Regions from separate parts of the Homo sapiens genome. Here region 2 is linked to region 1. The links come from fine-mapping of genetic effects on gene expression. A gene starts in region 1. The other region holds a variant in brackets. All regions are shown on one strand. Distances are from middle to middle.

Region 1 (10,687 bases):
TCTCGAGCCCGCACGCACGCCTAGGGGTGCGGGACACCCGGGCTAGAAGAGACGCACCTTACCCACCTCCCCTCCCATGCTGCGGGAAAAGGGCCAGAGAGGCTTTTGGAGTTCTGGAAGGGGCGGTGGGTAAGAGAGGTGGTGTGTGTGACTCTTATGCCCACCGATTCAGGCGCTTGGGTGGCTGCCACCCTTACAGAGATGGGCGACCAGCCCAGTGCTTAGAGTGCAGAGTGCGGCCTCAGGGGAGCCCGGGGGCGGGCCGGACCGATTCTCACTTTACAGGCCCGGGCCCAGCGCTGAACCCCAAGACCCCCAGAAACTGTGCCTCTGGGTGACATGCGCTGTGTCTCCACGTATTTAGTACGTTCATGTTTAAAATGATGCTAGCGTGTGGATGAGCACACTCTCAGGGAAACTGATCTGTTTCCATCACCTAAGAAGAACCATATGGGTGGGCGGCTGTGGAAGACACCCACAGACCTGTTTTCCTGCACCTGGGAGAGAAGACCGTCTTCCTCCCTTTTTATCCTTTCTTCCTCCCTGGGGAGGAGAAATACAAAAGAACTAGACATAAATAATAAAGAGCCACAATGGGTGGCTCTAAATATTTGATAATTGGATCACTGAGGTCTTGAACTACCACAATAGTCCTTTTTCAGCATTCTGTGTGTGTGCATTTCTTTTAGGTTTTTATTTATTTCTGTGTTTATTGGCGACAGTAGTTCAGCATGCAATTAATCGCCTCCACAAAGAAAGACAATGCTTTATGGTGTCATCCTTTGTTATTGCAACTTAAAATTTCTGGGTGGTACTCCGGATAAATTGTTGCCTCAGGTGCATGGAGTGCCCAAGTTGTAAAACAAGGGGCTTTCGATTGTGAGTTTATGTGTGTTCCAGTTGTCACCCAGCTTCCTTCCACAAGGCTATAAAATGCCTTTGAGTCCATGATCTGTTTCAATTAAAATGTTGAATCAAGGTAGACATCAATAGGCCCCGCCATTCTCAATTTGGGGTATTAGCTTCATTTCAAACTCACTGTGAGTGGTGTATCTAATTTCTGGTTATAAAGTAGTCATAATCTTTGAAGCTATTTGAACAAAACTTAGAACCATTTGGAATTATTTTCTGAAAAGAAAAAGGCTGTTTTACAAAATTATCTTCAACTTTCTACAGATAGATAAACTGATGAGGTTAATCAATGTGGATTAAAATATGTCTCCCGTTTTTATCCTCATTCCTCTCTCTCTCTCACACACACACACACACACACACACACCTTTTATTTTCTCCAGCCTCTGCCACAGTGTATAATGCCCTATTGAGACGTGTAGGCGTGATGTGTAAACCGGATTAGCAGTATGAAAGAAAGACACACAATAAGCTGGAATTGTTTTACTTCCCTTTCATTTCTCATGCCTATATTTCTGATAAATTTGTTGCTCCAGCAGTGGGTCAAAGGGATCATGTTGCTCAGCTTCTTTTTCATGCAGGACCCAATAGCAGAGATCACTGAAATGAATGGTGTGCCTCCTAGCAAACGCAAAGCTTGATAGAGATATATTAGACAGGGAGAGGCGAGGAGAGGGAAGGATGCAAAACATGTTCAAAGTCTGGGTGTTGTAGGAATACATCTCTATCCATGAGAGGAAAGCAATGTGGGTAAGAATATATTTGGAGAGAGAGGGATCAATGCAGGGGTCAATGCTCTGTTTTCTTTCAAGTTCATAGTAGGCTCTGAACATTCAGCAGTTGGTGACATGCTTAGCAAGAGAATACCAATAGCTTTTGGCAATACATAAAGTCTAATTCCCCTTTCAAGCTAGTATTTAGACCTGGAGTAATCAATGTGGAGATTTCTGGGACCTTCTCAGGACACTCCCCTCTGCCGCTTTCCCCACCCCCAGCTCACTGTAAGCTCAAAAAATGCCAGTGCTCCCGGGTTTGTGCTGTAGACCCCTCATTTACTCCTTTGTGGAGTTAGGAGCAGCTTCCCATTAAAGGAGATCAGGGGTAATTAGCAGCATTATTTTGACAAGTTGGCTAGAGCTGTTCCCTTTCCTCCAGCCTGGGGAGGGGGTAAATAAGGGGAGGAAACAGAAGGTGGAAGGGAGTAGGGGAGGGGAGTCAAGCCCAGTAGTTTTAAATTTTGTAGCTGCTGAATCTCCCCCCACCCCGTCCCCGACTTCCCTGAAACCTTTTAGACTCATTTTCTACCATCACCTTTTAAGAATATACAAAAGCTGCCAATGAGAAAATAGTAAGGCATTCTTAGGGAGCCAAGAAAATGTGGTGGATGGTGGCACATTGGCTTGAGTTGAGTCGACTCAACTCATATTCAAGGTACCTGCTTGGAACTGCTGAAGCCCTGCCTTGACCATCACTCACATCCTGTATCCTGGGCTCCCCATGCAGTAAAAGAATATTGCATCAAATCCCCAATTCCTCTCTCCATCCGACCCTCTCAACAAAAATACTGTAGGACTTAAAATCATGTTTGCAATTCCTTGTATTTCTGGAAGAGTATTAAACTCAGTAGACAAAATTATAAATGGCCCCAGGGTCAAATTACTGGAATACATTAACCCCTTTATTCATTTATACTCTGCAAAACTTGCCAAATTACATTGGATTTTAAAGACTCATTTGGTTTGATCTGAGAAACCAGTGAAAAGTTAAATCTCACTGTGGTTTTTCATAACTCCACCAAGTCTGGCTTCCACAATTGCTTACCATTGGAACATCCCAACACAAAGGGCAGATGTTTTATTTCATTGTCATCATTTGGATAATCTGATGTCATTTTTGAAATGTGTGTGGTGTGGCCATGGATATTTGTAGTATTGGAACAGAGAAGGGAGGAGATGTGAGGGAATCCGGAGAGCTTAAGGCATCTGCTTTGAAAACTACACACTCCAATGAGAAGTCTTGGATCATGACTGGGAGACCAAAATGACAATTTATGCATTGAGATGAACTTTACTTGGAAAGGGGAAATGGAACACTCAGCTGTTGCTTCATAAAGGCTGGCAACTCCTGCTGGCTGATAAGGCCCCAAGTTCTCACTTATTTTTATTTGGTAACTGTCACAAGGGGTGCCAGAGGCAGAAGGGCCATTTAAAGGGACTGTCTTCCCGGAGGACACCTTAGCAGGTCTGGCTGCCCCAGTCTGCATCTCAGATCTGTGGAATCCTTGTGGTTAGTTGAAGTTAACAAACCCGGTGTGGCACAGCAGTCCCCTGCACAGGGCATGCATATTAAAGCCGACAATGCTTACAAATGTAAATAAGGGCAGATTGATTAGGAACAACATTATCGCTGGGAATGTCGCACTCGCATGCATCAGCAATGAGGCAAATTGGGGGCAGCCTCAGCCCTGACCACCCAAGTCGAGCAGGCTTTTACACTGGCTCCTCTTCCCTTTCTTAAAACGTTACAGAAACAAGGCCAATTAGATCCTCAAAGTAATTCATCTCTAAGTATGAAAAAAGCAGACCACAGGGGAAGCGGCGGGTGGGGGGTGGGGAGATTAAGATAGCGCTCGTTAGAGCCGAGGCTCCGGAGTGCGTCCTGGAACCCACGGGTAGAATTTACAGGCCGGGACCATTGTCTGAGATGCTGAAAAGTTAACCCATCAAACAGCGGGCGAGGGGGCTCAGGGCACTGAAAGCTCCGGGGATCAATGTTCAAAACGTTTAGGAATTAAGTCAAACTAAGGGATATGGGCCTGAGTGGAAGAGGCTTTGCCACTGAAATGACGTGCATGTGGCAGCCGCCGGAACCAGAGGACATGCAGCCGCGTGCGGAGAGTGAGGCGGATCCATTACGGGCACACAGCTTACCATTTCCTTCCAGAATTCCTTCTTCCAAACAAGCTATACTGAAATCCCTCTAGTAAAAGATTGAGACGAAACACTAATAGTTTTGGGCCAAAACGTGGTGGAGAAGTTTGAAAAGACAAACATAGCAACGTGTCTTTGGCTATATGGTTCCTTGCCCTCCAGCAAGCTTGAAATATAAAAAGGCTAACATGCAAAACTAGGGGTACTACCCCCCTCCCCCAGTTTTTAAAAAGCAATTTCCAGAAGCAAACACACAATGGTTCGACTTGAAGTGTCGGCATAACCATTCAGTAAGAAAAGCTAGAATAGTAAACCTCTTTTCCTGTTTTGTGCTATTTATCAAACCTAATAAACATCAGGATCGTACTCAAAGATGAAACTGGCAATGTGTGGAGCCGTCTGAGCTCTTTATCAACTCAGTGTCATTTTCCTCGCATGCTGCCCGCCTGCTTTCCGAGTTTCCGCAGCCCTTCCCTGAGGCACTCACAAAATCACGTGCTCCTTAAGCGGTCTGAGTTTTGAATTTCCGCGCTGGCCCGGTGCTCAGGTCCCCCTCCGGATCCCGCGAACGCCCCCAAACACCTCCACCCCGTCTCCCTCTCTTCCTCGGGACATCCCGCCCTGACCCCGGCACCGCATACGGTTTGCGGGTTAGGGGGTCGGGGGAAGGGCCTCCCCCTGAAGCCGGGGAGGAGGAGAGGCTGGAGGGAAGGTGGCCAGGCTGGTGGGGGAGGGGAGATTGAGGGAGGGAGCGGGGCGAGGGAGGAAGGAGAAGGCGCAGGCCGAAGGAAGGAAGCGGGGAGGGGAAACCGCCGGGGAGGAAGGAAGGGGGCGGGGAGAGCCGGCGGACGGGCCCCCTGCGGGAGCCGCGTGGACCGCCCCGGTGGCCGGCGCGCCCCGCCGCAGCCCCCAGCGCGCCCGGGCAGCCAGCGCGGGGCCGCTGAATGGGCAGGGACTCGTGAGCGCGACCATTGGCCGGTCGCGGGGAGGCGGCGCGGGCATTGGGCAGCGTAAGGGGGCCGGTCCGCCTTCAGGAATGTACTACGGCGCGTCCGGCACGTCCGTCCGCGCCGGCTGGGCGCGCGCCTCGCCTGGGCTCTCGGGAGACCGCGCTGGAGGCCCGGAGCCGGCCCGGCGCATCCGCCTCCCTACCTACTCTGCCCCGGCCGCGCGGGCGCGGGGAGTCCGGGAGCCGGGCGCGCGCGCGCACCGGGCCTCCTGGCGCGGGGTCACGTGGCCACCGGAGCTCCGCCTTCTCCCTGCTCCTCCCCCTTTCCCTCCATCTGGGTTTCTTTCTTTCCTTTCCTTTCTTTCTTCTTTTTTTTTCAATGAACATACACCGTGCGCATCTTAAAGCCACACCGCCCCATTTCACGACTTCACTAGACTTCTCGCTACTGCCAGTCCCTCTGCAGTTCAACCCCGTTTAAAAAAAAAAATAAAGTGAAGCAAATCAAGGGTTTGCGGGTCGGGTTCCTACCGCAGGGAGGAACGTAATAACTTGGAAACGTAAGAAAAACACATTCCACTTTCCGAAAACAAAAATTTTTTTAAATAAAAAGCCTAGTTGTGTAGACGTGTCTGGCTCCAGAATCCACCTCAAAGGGTCGCGTGTTTTCCCCCTCCGCGGGAAGCGAATCCCCGGGATGCCTTGGTGACACTGGACGCGGTGTCGGGACGAATCCTCGCGATCCGCGCACAGTTTGTTTTCAATGAATCCAGCATCGGGGCATTTATAATCTCCTACGTCATACTATTATTAAATATAACATGCATACCGAGTTTTGTAAAAAAAAATACTGACTATATAAACATCTGGTTAATAAAAAGGGGTGTACAAATGAACCCAAAATAATCAGGAAAACTTTACTCTCTCAAGGAAACAATTCCGTTTCTCTAAGTTGTAAAAAAAGATTCTGTTGTTTCTCTTTTACTTATGTCACATTCGAGATTCAAATAAAAACGCCTCTGCCTCTACAAGACTGCTTCGGTGTCTGGATTCCACGTTTATAGAACACTGACTCCTTCAAACCAAGACTGTGTTTTTTTTTTTTTTAAGTTGGGGGGAGAAAGCGGCTGGGGGGCAGACGGATTTTAAGAAAGATGGCTTTTCCCAACGTCCTTGCTTTCCTCTTTAACTTTCCATTCTGTTTATCTTAATGCGAGGCGTTGTTCCCTGCAAGAGCCTAAGTCTTCCCTTTAGTTATAAAAGAAAAGAGAAGAGGAAAAAAAAATCTGGCACACACTGGCGCACTATCCAGCACGCTGTCATTATTGGTGCAGGCCTGGGAATGCGAGCCGGACCTCCCAGTATTTGCTGCAGCTTGAGGCCAAGGTGCCTCTGAAAGGCTTTTCTTTGAGGAATTTCAGAAATTGTTTAAGCGCTTAAAAAAATATTACATTTCCCCCCGTGTCTACCGCGAGGCAAATGTTCGTGTGTGTGCGTGCGCGCGCGTGTGTGCGCGCAAAGGCATCCCACAAAAAGAAGACACTGTTGAAAAGAAAAGGAATAAGAGAGAAAGGAGGGGGAGCATTCCTTAATGGAAGTATTGCATGCGAGAAGGTTGGCGCTCTCAGAGGCTGCCCCGAAGCCGAGGATGCACACACTGGGTTGCCTACCTGGGTGGTCTCTCTACTTTGGTGAGCTGTTGCTAAGCAGCTAATAATAGTCATGTTTGCTGAGTAATTTCTGCCCTCCGCGAGCCAATCGCGTCGCAGAAACCCAAGCCATCTGACAGCCCCGGGGGCGGGAGCTCCAGCCTTTTTCTCTTTCGCTCGCTCTCTCCCCCTCCACCCCCTCCCCTCCCCTCCTCCTCTTCTTTCTCCAAATGGAGAGAGTTCTTTTTTTTCTTCTTCCATCTCATCTATTGAATCAAGGAGCTGCTGCGGCCGCTGCCCGCTGCACACACACAGAGCGGAGTCCCCAGGTCCCGGGAGCGAGAGAGGCGCGCTGCACGGGGACAGAATGGTCCAGCGGGTTGCCGAGGAGCACAAGAAAGCAGAGTCCGGGACCGAGCAGCCACCGCGAACCCAGCAGCCAGAGCCCGAGCAGCCCGAGCAGCAGCTCCTGGAGCCGCCACCGCCAGCAGCAGCCACCGCGGGAGCAGCGGCAGCTGCGGCTGCCCGGGCCCGGCAGCGCTGAGACCCGCCGGGCACCCTCGGACCCCGCGGCGGCGGCGGCTCTGCGCTTGCCCTCCGCGGCCGCTCGGGCGACCCGGGAGGCGCCGAGAGAGCCAGCGCGGCCGGCGGGAGCAGCGGGGATTCGCTGGCTCTTTCTGCAGTGAAGGGGTCGCGGCGCGGGGCGGGGGGCGGGTAGGGGGAGTTGGGGACCGCAAGGAGTGCCGCGGAAGCGCCCGAAGGACAGGCTCGCTCGGCGCGCCGGCTCTCGCTCTTCCGCGAACTGGATGTGGGCAGCGGCGGCCGCAGAGACCTCGGGACCCCCGCGCAATGTGGCAATGGAAGGCGCAGGGTCTGACTCCCCGGCAGCGGCCGCGGCCGCAGCGGCAGCAGCGCCCGCCGTGTGAGCAGCAGCAGCGGCTGGTCTGTCAACCGGAGCCCGAGCCCGAGCAGCCTGCGGCCAGCAGCGTCCTCGCAAGCCGAGCGCCCAGGCGCGCCAGGAGCCCGCAGCAGCGGCAGCAGCGCGCCGGGCCGCCCGGGAAGCCTCCGTCCCCGCGGCGGCGGCGGCGGCGGCGGCAACATGGCCTCGGCTGGTAACGCCGCCGAGCCCCAGGACCGCGGCGGCGGCGGCAGCGGCTGTATCGGTGCCCCGGGACGGCCGGCTGGAGGCGGGAGGCGCAGACGGACGGGGGGGCTGCGCCGTGCTGCCGCGCCGGACCGGGACTATCTGCACCGGCCCAGCTACTGCGACGCCGCCTTCGCTCTGGAGCAGATTTCCAAGGTGCATTTCAGACTCTCTCCTCCCACTTTCTCTTCCCTCCTCTAACTCTTTGGGATCGCCCCCGCCACACACAAACACACACACTCTCTTCCTCTCTCTCTCACACACACACACACACTCACTCACACCTCTCCAGGAAAAGCAGCAGACAAATGGGGATTGAAAAATTCAAACCCTCCCTCTGGTCCTGGGAGGAAAGGGCTGTCTGAGGTCCGCAGGGGGTGGAGGTGTGTGTGTGTGCGTGTGTGTGTGTGTATACACACGCCCTCCCTGGTGTGCCTTTTCCGGAGCACTGGAAAGCCGTCCACGGCGGACCACCTCAAGGGCGGCCGCGGCACTGTCCTGCCCCGTGCCCCCTGCCCTGAACTTCTTCCTCCTGCGCCCCTGCCCCTATTTGCAGCCTAAACTCCTGTACGGCTGCCACATTTCTTAACATCTTGGAGGGGGAGGCGGAGTGGAGAGAGGCGGAGAGAGGAAGGGGGGAGGGAGCCGAAATAAAGGTGGTTTCCTTTTTTGGCAGCCAGTTTTGGTTTTGTTGAGCATGAAATCTCTGCTCCCTTAAAAAATTATTCTCGGAAAAAGATATCCCCCCCGTTTTCCAGGTTTTGAGCCGCCTCTCCTTAGGGCCTGGTCGGGGGAGGAAAAGTTGTAAACAAATTGCCACCTTAAATTCGCGGTGCGAGTCTGCGGAGCTGCCGGGTTCATTGTGTTTACGAGGCTCGCTGAAATGTGTGGAATCCAGGGAAGGCGAGCACCCAGACGGGGGCCCGCCGGGGCCGCGGCCAGCGCCGGGGAAATGCCGCGCCGGGGAGCAGCCTGCGCCGGCCTGAGCCCTTCCCTTTGCACTCGGCTGTTTTTTACGTTTAACCAGAAAGGAAGGGAGAGGAGGGAAAGATCCATGTGGCTGCCCTCTTCCGATCACAAATATTGTCGTAAGTTGCAGCTGGCTGCCCCACTTCCTAATTCAGCTCACACAGCCTCTCCCCACGCTATGGAAATGCGTCGGGAGTGAACTCCGGCGGCCGCGCTCACCACGTGGATCCCCACTTACTACCATTCTCGGCGGGGGTCCAGTTGGGGGAACCCGCAATATGTTGTTCCAAAGAGCGCTCGCCCCTAGCGCCCGTCCCCGAGGGTGATGGACAGAGCAGGACTGGTTTGCTGGCTCCTGAACCTTGGGCTCCATCGCTGGGATTACGCAGCCCCTCCCTTCTCAGCTCTGGGGTGAATATTGTCTGTGTCGAGTGGTTTCTCTCCTCTCTACCTCGGCTTCCTCTTCTGTATTGCAGCCCCAGTGCCCCAAGTCGCTCAGGGATCCCGCGGGTGGGGGCGCCCTGATGTCCCCGAGGTGCAGCTCCCACGCTGCGGCCCGGCTTTATGACCGAGCCCCCCATGACGCTCAGATCCGCCGGGGCTGCAGTCTCGAGGGCGAGTCCGTGTGCCGCGGCCACCCGCGCCCCCACGGCTGTTGGGGGCTCACCGGGCGGGTGCGCGCAAGCGGGCGTGGGCGCGCGGGCCGCGACTCCCCGGCGCTCACTCCTCCCTTCTGCTTCGTCCCCAGGGGAAGGCTACTGGCCGGAAAGCGCCGCTGTGGCTGAGAGCGAAGTTTCAGAGACTCTTATTTAAACTGGGTTGTTACATTCAAAAAAACTGCGGCAAGTTCTTGGTTGTGGGCCTCCTCATATTTGGGGCCTTCGCGGTGGGATTAAAAGCAGCGAACCTCGAGACCAACGTGGAGGAGCTGTGGGTGGAAGGTAAGAGCGCCCGCCGCGGCGCCCGCGCCCCCGGCCCGGTCCCTCCTCGCGGTTGATAGAGATATTCGCCAGCGCACACCTAGAGCCTGGCTGCGGCCGGCGAAACCCCCTGCCCGCACCCGGGGGATTGTTTATTGTTTGGGCGCCTGGCCGGGAGCCAGGCCCGCCCGACAAAGGCCGCGCTGTAATCTACTCGGGGCGCTGCGCCGGCCGAGGTGTGGTGGGAGAGAGCGGCGGGGGCGGGACGGGGGCGCGGGGCCCCTCCGGGACGGACCACTCTGCGCGCCGGGGGCCCCGGGCCCGCCGCCGCTGCCGCTGTCCGCCTGGGCCGCGCCCCGAGAGGCGCCCCGGGGCTGGCCTCTCCCGGCCCCGCTCCGCGGCCCGGCTTTCTTCTCTCCCCCACCCCCACCCACCGCGTCCAAAGAAAAAGGAGTCGGGGAGAGCCAGAGGCCACCCCTCCGGCTGGCTGGAGTGTGCGCGCCCCCGGCGGCCGCGGCCGCCGCGCTGGGGAGGGCCGGGGGCGGGCGCAGCGCGGGGCTGCGGAGGCGGCGGCGTGTGTGGTCCTGTTTTTGGACAGCTTTCAACTCTGAGGGAAAAAAACATTTGTCTCAAGGTACAAAAAACGCGGGGTGGGGGTGGAAGGAGTGGAAAAAAAAATAGTAAGGCACAGACTGGAACGCATGTTTGCAAAGTAGATTAATGTTTCCTCGCGGGTGGGGGCTTTTTACATGGAATTATTCTGGGGGAAGGCTGCATTTTGCAGGCAAAGAAAAGAAATGTTTTAAGAACGCGGGGTTGAAGGGACCTCTCAGAGGGGTTCTGCCAGTCTTTTATCCACGTTCCTCAGTTTTGGGGTTCTTGAGACCTTAGCAAAGCAGTTGCAGATTTAAAATAGATATATATTTTTTCGAAGACAAACATTTTTACATTATTTTGGTGACAAAGGTTTCAATTTTTTTCCCCCGCTGGTTTCTTATTTATCTTTTTGGCAAGTTCCAAATCCTGCTATTTGGAAACACTTTAACCCTAAACACCACTTTGGGCATCCCTTACCTTACAAGAGGGTAGTAGGGGAGGGTAGAGGTGACTAGGTAGATAATTCAAACCAAAATACCTGGAGCATTCCTCCGGACAGCATGTGGAAGCTGAAGAGTTATGCGCATAATCGCTTCAGTGATCCCTTTCAGGATGCT
Region 2 (10,687 bases), 140 kb after region 1:
ACAGGCTTATGTGATCAAAGGGATCTACTGGCTCCAAGACTTGAAAAGTCTAGAAGCAAGAGTATCTTAAGGCCTGTTCCAGAAACATAGCCACATGACCACGGCCGGAATTTCTCCCCAGTTCTCAGAGCTGCTTTCCCAGTGCTGGCTCCGTCCCGAGGGTGGCTCCTCTCACCAGCCAAAGACAGCTGCCACCAGATTCCAGGTGACAGGCTTTGTCCACATCAGTAGGAAAGAAAGAGTACTTCTGTCCCACCATTGCAATAAATGTCCTGAGAAGACGCTGATGGAAACAGGGTGGCTCATAGGACCCCCCCACCCAGGAAGCAATCACTGTGACGAGGACATGGAATGTATTATTTAAATTAACCTCCAGGTCACACGCCAACCAGAAGAGTAGGAAAATAGTTCAGTTTATCAGCAAACATATGTTTGGGATGCTGAGTGCAAAGGATGTGGAGATATCTGACTCTGCCCGAGGAGGGTGTGGTGTAGACTGGGAAAGAGGAGGTTGGGGAAGACTTCACAGAAGAGGAGATGTCAGGCCAGGCGCGGTAGCTCACGCCTGTAATCCTAGCACTTTGGGAGGCCGAGGAGGGCAAATCACCTGAGGTCAGAAGTTCAAGACCAGCCTGACCAATATGGTGAAACCCATCTCTACTAAACATAAAAATACAAAAATTAACCAGGCTGTGGTGGTGCGTGCCTGTAATCCCAGCTACTCAGGAGGCTGAGGCAGAAGAATAGCTTGAACCAAGGAGGCGAGGTTGCAGTGAGCCAAGATTGCACCACTGCACTCCAACCTGGGCGACAGGAGACCCTGTCTCAAAAAAAAAGATGTCACTTGGGACCAGAATGTGAAGAACCCTCAGTGTCATGCTAAGAAACTTGAACCTTTAGCTCATCTAAAAAGAAATAAGTTGTTAAAGCAAATCCACAGCATAAACCAGACGGGCTGACTTATGCTACCGATAAAGCATCATTTTCAACAAGTTAGTTGTATGAGAGTCATACAACTATAGGATGAGTACATATCAAATTTTATTCAACTAATTAACGAGGCATCCAGTAAGAGTTCAAAGCTGGTTTTAAGAACATCTGAGGAGCCCAGGAATTTGAGACCAACATAGGCAACATGGAAAGATCCTGTCCCTATAAAAAAATTTAAAAATTAGCCGAGCATGGTGGCGTACACCTGTAGTTCCAGCTACTTGGGAGGCTGAGGTGGGAGGATCATTTGAGTCCAGGAGTCGGAGGTTGCAGTGAGCTGAGATTGTGCCACTGCACTCCAGCCTGGGCGACAGAGTGAGACCCTGTCTCAAAAAAAAAAAAAAAAAAAAAAAAAGCTGGGCACGGCCGCTCATGCCTGTAATCCAAACACTTTGGGAGGCTGAATAGGAGGATTACTTGAGGCCAGGAGGCTTGATTACTTGAGACTGCAATGAGTTATGATCACACCACTGCATTCCAGCCTGGGTGACAGTGAAGCCTTGTCTCTTAAAAAAGAAGGAAGGAAGGAGGAAAGGAAAGAAGGAAGGAAGGAAGGAGAAAGAAAAGAAACAATAAAGAAAACCTAAAAAAAAGAATTCAGAATAACATTACTTGATCAGACATACAAGTAGCTAGTTGTGTTTCAAAAAGAGATGGAAGCCTAACTTTTGGGGTTTTCTACCTGAGAGAAATAATTGGTATTTCCACTGCACACAAATCTACAAGTTAATACTTACTTGCATAGAGTCTGAGTCTTTAATTAAAATAACAAGCAGAGTAAAATAATAGTACAACCTTCTATCCCTAGAGAATGAAATAATCTTTAGATAGGCTTGTTAGACAACGCTTTAGTATGGCCTTAAAAAGACAGTCATTCTCTTGGCTTTATTTCTAAGTTTTGGATAATTTTTCCTAACACCAGAGCAATCTATTTAAGACAGTTTTGTTTTTTAAAGTGGACTTAAGCATGACAGTACTTGCATATCAGTGAATACTGCTAATTGTAGTCAGTTTTAATATTGTCATTAAGAGAGGGCTGGGCGTGGTGGCTCACGGCTGTAATCCCAGCACTTTGGGAGGCCGAGGCGGGCGGAGCACGAGGTCAAGAGATTGAAACCACCCTGGCCAACATGGTGAAACCTCGTCTTTACTAAAAATACAAAAATTAGCTGAGTGTGGTGGCACGTGCCTGTAGTCCCAGCTACTCAGGAGGCTGAGGCAGGAGAATCACTTGAACCCGGGAGGCGGAGGTTGCAGTGAGCCGATATCGCGCCACTGCACTCCAGCCTGGCGACAGAGTGAGACTCCATCTAAAAAAAAAAAAGAGAGAGAGACTTGAAGAGGTTTACAGAAGTAAAGAGCCCAGCAAGAGGAGGCCCCAGTGTCACAGAGACATCTCCAGGGCGTTATTCAGAAAGCAGCTAGCGAGGGAGACATCAGCTCTGAACCCAGCCCAAGCTGTGGGAGTCCCACTCCCTGGTGTCTCTTCTGCCCCTGAAGTGTTTTGGTTAAGAGAGAAAGACATTCCAGACACTCAGTAATCAAGTGCAACCACGCTAAGCCACGTTTAGAGCCACATTTTTGGATAACAGATTTATTAATGGGCTGGTTGAGAGAACTGGACCATGTGGTGTGTGGAGAAATTCAAAATATTTCAAATAAATACTTGGTGTACTTTCTGTCTGACTGCTGTAATGTGTTCAGTTACTCTTATGTTCCCTGTTGAAGATTAATTAAATAGAAATTGCTCACTAAAAATATAGTTCAGAATATTAAAAAGCTAATTAATATAAATTTTTCTAAAAAGGAAGGCATTTATTTCAATAGACGCTCACCTGTCCAAATCCAATTTTTTTGTTTACTGATAAAGTTGTAGGTGGAGTAATTGCCATAGAGAAGAGAATACACCCTATCTACACTTCCAAAAATGAGGATTGCCACATTTAGCAAATAAAAATATGGTATCCCCAGTTAAATGTGAATTTCAGAAAAACAATGAATAATTTTTTAGTGTAAGTATGTCCCATGCAATATTTAGGACACACTTGTGGCAGGTAGAAAAGGGGCCAACAAAGATGTCCATGGACAGATATTCCTAACACTTGGAACATATTCCCTTACATGGCAAAAAGGATTTTGCGGATGTGATTAAGTTAAGGCTTTTCAGAGGGCAGGTCGTCCTGGGTGAAGTGACTGGTCCAAATGTAACCACAGAGTCCTTAGAGGAGGGAGGCAGGAGAGCCAGAGTTAGAAATTGAAGGTGGAGGAAGGACCAACCAGCTGAAGGATGCAGTCGTCTTCTAGAAGTGTGGGAATAGGCAAAGAAACGGACTCTCCTTGAAGTCTTCGGAAGGAGCATGGCCCTCCTAGACACTGATTTGAGCCCCAGGAGACCCCGGGGCTAGCTACCTGCAGCAGTGTTAGATTAATTTGTGTTGCTTTACACCACTGTAATTTGTTACGGAACCAATAAGAAACTCAGATAATGCTTATACTGAAAAAGTTATTTGTTGTTTATCTGAAAATCACATTTACTTGGGGCATCCTGTATTTGTCCTGGCAGCCCGACCTAGAACGCCAGAGCAGGAAGCAGCCGGCAGTGGTGGGAAGCACTGAAACAGCTTCGGGAGGTCCCACTGTCTCGCCTGGGGAGTCTCTTCAGATTCAGGCCTCCAGTCCCTCCAGGGAAATCTGAGGAGCTGTCTGGCCTGGGTGATCACTGAGGCTCCCTCGCAGTCCGTGAGCCTATCTAAGAAAAAGCCTTTTGCCAATACGAATAAAACAACCAGCCTAATTAGCGAATGTTCACAGTTCAGACAATTGCCGCCTCTGGGCTGTGTGCCCCTCTCCTGCCGTCCACTACCCCCTCCGGGAGGCGGCCCACCTGCTGGTGCGTCTGCATTGGGCCCTGCCCAGGGCTGGTGTCCTGGTACTTCTCCCTGTCTCCTCACACCTCCTCCTAACTCTGGGACAGACAACGCCAGGCGGCACTGCATGAGTTTCGTATTGCAAATTACCACACAGCGGCTTAAGAACACAAACTTACTTTAAAGCTCTGAAAGAAAGTCAGAATTCCAAAAAGGATCTTGTGGACCTAAAATAAAAAGTGTCCAGAGAGCTGTGTCCCCACCTCTAGATGCCGCCTGCTCTCCTGGGCTCGCAGCCCCACACCATTCTGCCCTCTGCTTCTAAGAGCGCATCTCCCCTCAGACGCTCACCCGCCCACCTCCCTCTAGTGAGGGGCCTTGTGATTACAGTGGGCCCTCCAGGTAACCCAGGAGAATCCTCCCGTCTAATCACATCTGTAAAGTTGCCTTTGCTGTGGAAGATAACATAATCACAGGTTCCAGTGATTTAGTCATGAACATCATTGGGGGGCCATTATTCCACCTATGACACCTACCTAATGTCTATTCTTCCCTTCCTTCTAACAGAATCATTATTTTGTTCAGGGTGACAATATGCTTGGCTAAAGAATTTTTTTTTTTTTTTTTTTTTTT[G/TTTTG]AGGCGGGGTCTCGCTCTGTCGCGCAGGCTGGAGTGCAGTGGCGCGATCTCGGCTCACTGCAAGCTCCGCCTCCCAGGTTCACGCCATTCTCCTGCCTCAGCCTCCCGAGTAGCTGGGACTACAGGCACCTGCCACCACGCCCGGCTAATTTTTTGTATTTTCAGTAGAGACGGGGTTTCATCGTGTTACCCAGCACAGTCTCGATCTCCTGACCTTGTGATCCGCCCACCTCGGCCTCCCAAAGTGCTGGGATTACAGGCGTAAGCCACCGTGCCCAGCCAAGAATTTTTATTTACAAAGCTGCCTTGAAGCTTCCTGCAGTCATGTGGCTGATGAGATGTTAGTAGACGTCTGCTGGCCAATGAGAAGTAGGAGTCTGGCTTCCCAGAAGGCTGCTGTTTTCCCAATTAAAAGATGGAGACTCACTTGGCATATACCTTTTGTTCTCTCTCATGACCTCTTCATCCTCATGGAAAATGAACGTGATACCTGGAAGGGCAGCCACTATATTGTGACCTTGACAATGAAAATCACTCAAAAAAGATGACGAAGCAAAGAAAAGTGGATAAATCTGCAAGGAAAAGTGGACAGCTCCACCATCCCTGAGACACTGTGGAAAAGACTCCTTCTTCCCTGTCTGCCAAGCTTCAGATTTCTAGATTCATGAAAACGGAGAAACTTTATTTATTTATTTATTTAAGGCAGAGTCTCGCTCTGTCACCCAGGCTGGAGTGCGATGGTGTGATCTCGGCTCACTGCAACCTCTGCTTCCTGGGTCCAAGCCATTCTCCTACCTCAGTCTCCTGAGTAGCTGGGATTACAGGCGCCCGCCATCACTCCCAGCTAATTTTTGTATTTTTAGTAGAGACAGGATTTCAGCATGTTGGCCAGGCTAGTCTCAAACTCCTGACCTCCAGTGATCCACCTGCCTCGGCCTCCTAAAGTACTGGGAGTACAGGCGCATGCCACCACACCTGGCTAATTCTTGTATTTTTGTAGACAGGGCTTAGCCATGTTGGTCAGGCTGGTCACAAACTCTTGACTTCATGTGATCCTCCTGCCTTGGCCTCCCAAAGTGCTGGGATTACAGGCATAAACCACTGCACCTGGCCTGGGAGGAACTTTTAATTGTGGGAGGCTGGTAGTCAGTTAAATGCAGCGGAAACCAGTTATAACAGATGCAAGCTCTGTCTAAATCCTCACTACTTAAAGCGTGCTCCTGTGGGAGCAGCAGGGACAGCCCCTGGGAATGTGTTGGAAATGCAGAATCCAGGGCCCCCCACAGACCTGAACCAGAATCTGCATTTTAACAAGATCCCCAGGGAATTGCTCTGTATGCCCTTCGGAGTCACCACAGCTCTGGAGCCCACAGAAGCTGAGAGGGAAAGTGCCCTGGATTCCTTCACCCTGTGCTTGAAGACACGGCCTGTCTGGCAACAATAGTAAGTACTCTTGGAATTTACTGGAACGAACGTCAAACCGTGGGAGGTGGGTGCAAAATTGTATATACAGTCGTCAAGTCTGCTTCTCACCCCACCACCACCAATTACCCTGATTTAGTTCTTTTCTTTTCTCCCTAAAATTGTATATTTCATGATTAGTCAGCCTAAGACTCCTACATCCATTTCATTCAATCAAGACCAACATTGATAAGAAGTTGAAGACCGGGTGAAATCAGGAAAAAGTGGAAAATTACCTCCTTTTAAAAGTTTCTTAAAACTTTTAAAAACTTTTGGTGGTTTGTAAATAGACCTGAAATTTCTTTGATGCTATCAGCCACCCAGATGAATGAAGTGCAGTATATAAAGCCCCCGACTTACGATTCAACTTGGGATTTCTTTTGACTTTAAAATTTTTTGACTTTATGACTTTAACCCCATCGTAAGTTAAGGAACATCTGTAAATATATAAATCCACAGAGAGGAAGAAAGATCCAGAGAGCCTTTCAACACACTGCATTTCTCATTTCCATTAAATCCCTCAAGTTATACATTTAATATGGACTGTAAATTGTGTACTCATTTTTCTTCAATGATTTCTATTCAGAATATTACAAAGAAAGAGTTAGATTAAAGCCCAGCTACTGTTTCCTGGGGACTGGAGGGGACGTCAGGGAAGTGAGTAGATCATCCAGCTGACTTTGCCCTCTTGTTCTGGGAGGGTTTTTAAATTTATTTTTTAAATAGGTAAATCCAAAAGGTATATAAGCATATATATAGACAGTGAAAAGTCTCCTTTTCCTTCAGTCCCTCCCTCCAACTGCCAAATTTCCCTCTCTCAAAGCAACTCTGTTACCGGTTTCTTGAGAATCCTACCACGTGAGCACGCTGCATGCTGGAAGAGGCTAAAACATGTGGCTGAAAAACAAGAGGGGAGTGTGTAGACGGCTTGGAATTGTTCTTGAGGGCATGCATTAAAATTAATCTTTGTCATCATCCAATTGCTTTCTGTTAAGATCTTCTGCTGGCATTTAATTTTTCCAATCATAGATAAAATATCTGTCAAGTAAAGAGCCAGAGTTGCCACCTACTTGTTCCAGAGGATTAAGGAGATAACGTTTATAAAACACTTGGAGCATCTCAGAGGAAGGCTCTGAATAAACAGAAACACTTGTTAAAGCTGCAGCCCTCTTCTACATAATTTACATTTTATCACTCTGTCCTCACCCCCAGCCCACTACATACTTGCCCCCACCTCCTTGCAGCACGGTTTAAGGGTGAGAGGTTAATAAGAAAGGGTGATTGATGTAAGGCAAGACTAAGTAGACTGCTTTGAGGATTTTTGCTTTGTTTCCTAAAGCTTCCCAACTCGTCTGCTCTTTAAAGAACCTGGAGTTTTTTTCAAAAAGAGAGACACCTAATTGCATAAGTCAACTTTGTAGTTGTGTGGCTTTATTTAATAATTCAAATAATTTAAGAATATTTTCTTTTTTTAAAAAATGGATAATTTACATCCTTTCTTGTTTCACTTATTAATATGTTATGAGCATTACTGTTGTGAACAGCTGTGTTGATATAGCATGATTATTTGAAAAATAAGAAGTGTTTCTGTAATTAAAGATACCCATAAGGAGACTTGGTTCACATTTATGCAGTAAATTGATATATGCACGTTCAGGGCCTACTATGTGCTAAAACAAAAATGGACACCACAGAGATACCTAAGATGTTTTCCCTGCCCAATACAAAGCCCTCGGTGACAAGTGTGAAATTGGAGGATTCAGAGGGCATTTTCTTGCACCTGACAAATAAGGTTGTTTGCTTAAATTGCTGCACTTTAGGAAGACTTTGTTTTGTCCTAGATCACTTTGAGTACCCCAGTGGTCTTATAGACAAATGAATAGACTTTTCTAAGAGATAAAAGCCCCCACATAAAGATTCTAGGAAAAAATATGAAACCATCTCTGGGAAGGGATATAAAAATCATAAGTTACTAAAGTAGATAGAAATAATAGACTATCTACTATCTACTACTAAATATAATAGAATATTTAAAAGTATTTCCCTTTTAAATATAAAATCTTTAATTGTAAAACTGTTGGGCAAAGAGCTGAATGATGGTTTAAGCCATATGAAAGGCAAGTCTGCAGATCAGCTAATTATTGGCCAAAACGATAATTGCCCTGTACCTTCCAAATTAAAGGACACAGCCCATAAAGATAGTAGTAAGAGTTTATGTTTCCTTCTCCTTAATCTTGTACAAGAGTTAACCTCCTAGACCCAAGACATTTCCAGCAATTAGTGATGGGTTGAAGTTAACAGTGCTGACAAAGCCTTGGTCACTGATCCCTTCGGCTTGTCATTAACCTCTAAAACTGCTAAATATGATGCAAAAAAAGTATTTCACCAATATTATTTAAAAGACTGTATCATATTTCATACATAAATTTCCAATGTAGAAAAATCTCTTACAATGTATATATGTGTGCAAGGTAGTTTAAAGGTTTTTTTAGTTTTTTATTTCCAGAATTTTCTTCCAGTATAAAAGAGTAATTTGAGGTAAATATTCTATGTATATAGGGAAGGAAAACTATTACTAAGATCAGGCATTCCAAAATGTTTTTCAAAGAAAAGGGTTATAAAATTCACTTTAAAAAACGGGAATCTTTGTTTTTGCCTATTAGCACTTTGAATGAATTTATTGAAAGTTTTAAGCAGAGTGAAAAATTGGATCATAGGTTAGTGTCCTCTTGAAAATGGTGGTGTATGTTTCTCATACTCTTAAAAGAACAAAAGGTAAAATATCATTGAAAGAACACAAACATAGCCCCATTTATTATTATAACTACAAATCATATTTTCGTAGTAACTTGTTCTGATTTAAGAATTTTCATAAGAAAAGATATGAAGTCTCAATGGATTGTAATGTTACTGACTCTATTCAACATGTAATAAGCTTTACTCTGATTTTATATCCTGAGTCCATAAAGCTTATTAAATGACACTTCAAAATTTCTTTCAATGGTGGAAGCTTTGGTTAAGTGAAAAAGCCTGTTGGGGTTTTCCCCCTGTAGTTTTCTAATTAGGGCTTCCTTATTACATCACAAACATTAATCACCACATTATCCAGTAACAGATCAGACTTACCCTATCTTTCAGATCCTCATTAATCTACTAGTAAAGTTATGAGCTCCATTAACATGGTTACATTTAGAAAGTCTCCCTGAAGCACAGTACATCCATTACTGGGGCTGAATAACCCAACAGCTATGTGTCTTATCCAGTCCAGATACGTTTTTGAAATGTCAACTTTGACAGAGAAACTTTCTGTGCACCCCCCACATAGGAATCCTACAGAATATTTGCTTTATTTACTGCTTGGGGTACTATTTTAGCAGAAGATAAATTCTCCGAGCAGGATCAAGTTTGCATTTTGCAGAGACGGAGCCATCTGTTGTTGTCCAGAGCTTGGCTGTGTTCCATTTGGAATGCAGGGCCAGCCCCGGTTAAAAAAGAATGTGAACTCTTCCTAGTGTGATCACCCCCACAAACAGAGAGAACGCTGCAAGTTCCTTGCAATCCTAAACCAGCCAGCACTTCCTGAACACCTGCCCTGAACACAAATGTTCCTTTGGTGAGTGACAGTGAAAATGACAGGGCGTCAAGTTCACCTGGCCATGTCCACATCGATGAACCAACCTGGCCAGTAGACGCAGAGCCCACTGTGGTTCTGCAAGAGCACACATCGGGGAAAGGTGCTCTGGTGCGTTCACACGGTCTTCAGATTGCTCAGAAAGGCGTATCATTTTCTAGATTTAGGGAGTGTGGGCTTTTATTTCAGAACTTTACAAAAAGAAGTGTCTAAGTCTCTCAGCTTACCTTGGAGTTGAATTTATTGCATTCATGGCTGGATTTGTCAATTACTGTTTGCTTTCCGTCCTTCCATAGGGTGCTATATAGACGTAAGCAAGCCATTTCCTTCTAGAGGATGCAAAAATGAATAAACAGTTAACAACGTATGCTACATACATATGGCATTTATCATCAGACTCATTTAAGAGAACCTAGATAAATAGAAAGACACTCTTTTTTTTATGAAGAGGGAGTCTCACTCTGTCACCCAGGCTGGAGTGCAGTGGCGCGATCTCAGCTCACTGCAACCTCTGTCTCCTGGGTTCAAGCGATTGTCCCGCCTCAGCCTCCCAAGTAGCTGGGATTACAGGCACCCACCACTATGCCCAGCTAATTTTTTGTATTTTTAGTAGAGACAGGAGTTTCGCCATGTTGGCCAGGCTGGTCTCAAACTCCTGACCTCGTGATTCACCCACCTCAGCCTCCCAAAGTAGGCATGAGCCACCGCACCCAGCCTAGAAAGATACCCTTAAGGAATTTTAAAATATTAGAAAATATTTTCCTGAGGAGAAACATGTTGAAGTCAATGAATATTTTGTTCAAAATGTCAAATGGATAAGACAAAATTCAAAGATAGACAAGGTGAAGGAAGGGAAATACCAATAAAAAAAAGAAAGTCTATTAAAACAAAACTCAGGAGACTTAAAAAAAAATTTCAAAGATTAGAAATTACGTATTTGTGAGCAGAGTAATGTGGTTATCAAATTTTTCTGCAAAACAATCTAGTTTTGGAATTTGAGGACTGTGTTTCATTCTTTTTTTTTTTTTTTTGTAAGTCGGAGTCTCGCTCTGTTGCCCAGGCTGGAGTGCAGTGGCCCAATGTCGGCTCATTGCAAGCTCTGCCT

Evidence for each region.
Region 2: its variant is fine-mapped to the expression of PTCH1 in naive CD4 T cells (Schmiedel 2018, PIP 0.95).

What each region holds. Positions count from the first base shown.
Region 1 is chr9:95,505,214-95,515,900 of GRCh38, reverse strand. PTCH1 (patched 1) reads left to right here and starts at 6,635. Exons shown (of 24, transcript NM_000264.5): 1 at 6,635-7,740; 2 at 9,302-9,494. The coding sequence starts at 7,540. RefSeq lists enhancers at 2,869-3,841, 3,707-4,468, 4,469-5,232, 6,186-6,735, 8,321-8,954 and silencers at 4,396-4,445, 4,666-5,105, 7,380-7,699, 8,480-8,529, 9,060-9,299 and 2 more.
Region 2 is chr9:95,362,111-95,372,797 of GRCh38, reverse strand. LOC105376155 (a long non-coding RNA gene) reads left to right here and starts at 5,693. Exons shown (of 2, transcript XR_930133.3): 1 at 5,693-5,933. RefSeq lists a silencer at 5,697-5,991. The variant G/TTTTG (reference allele first, on the strand shown) is at 4,491.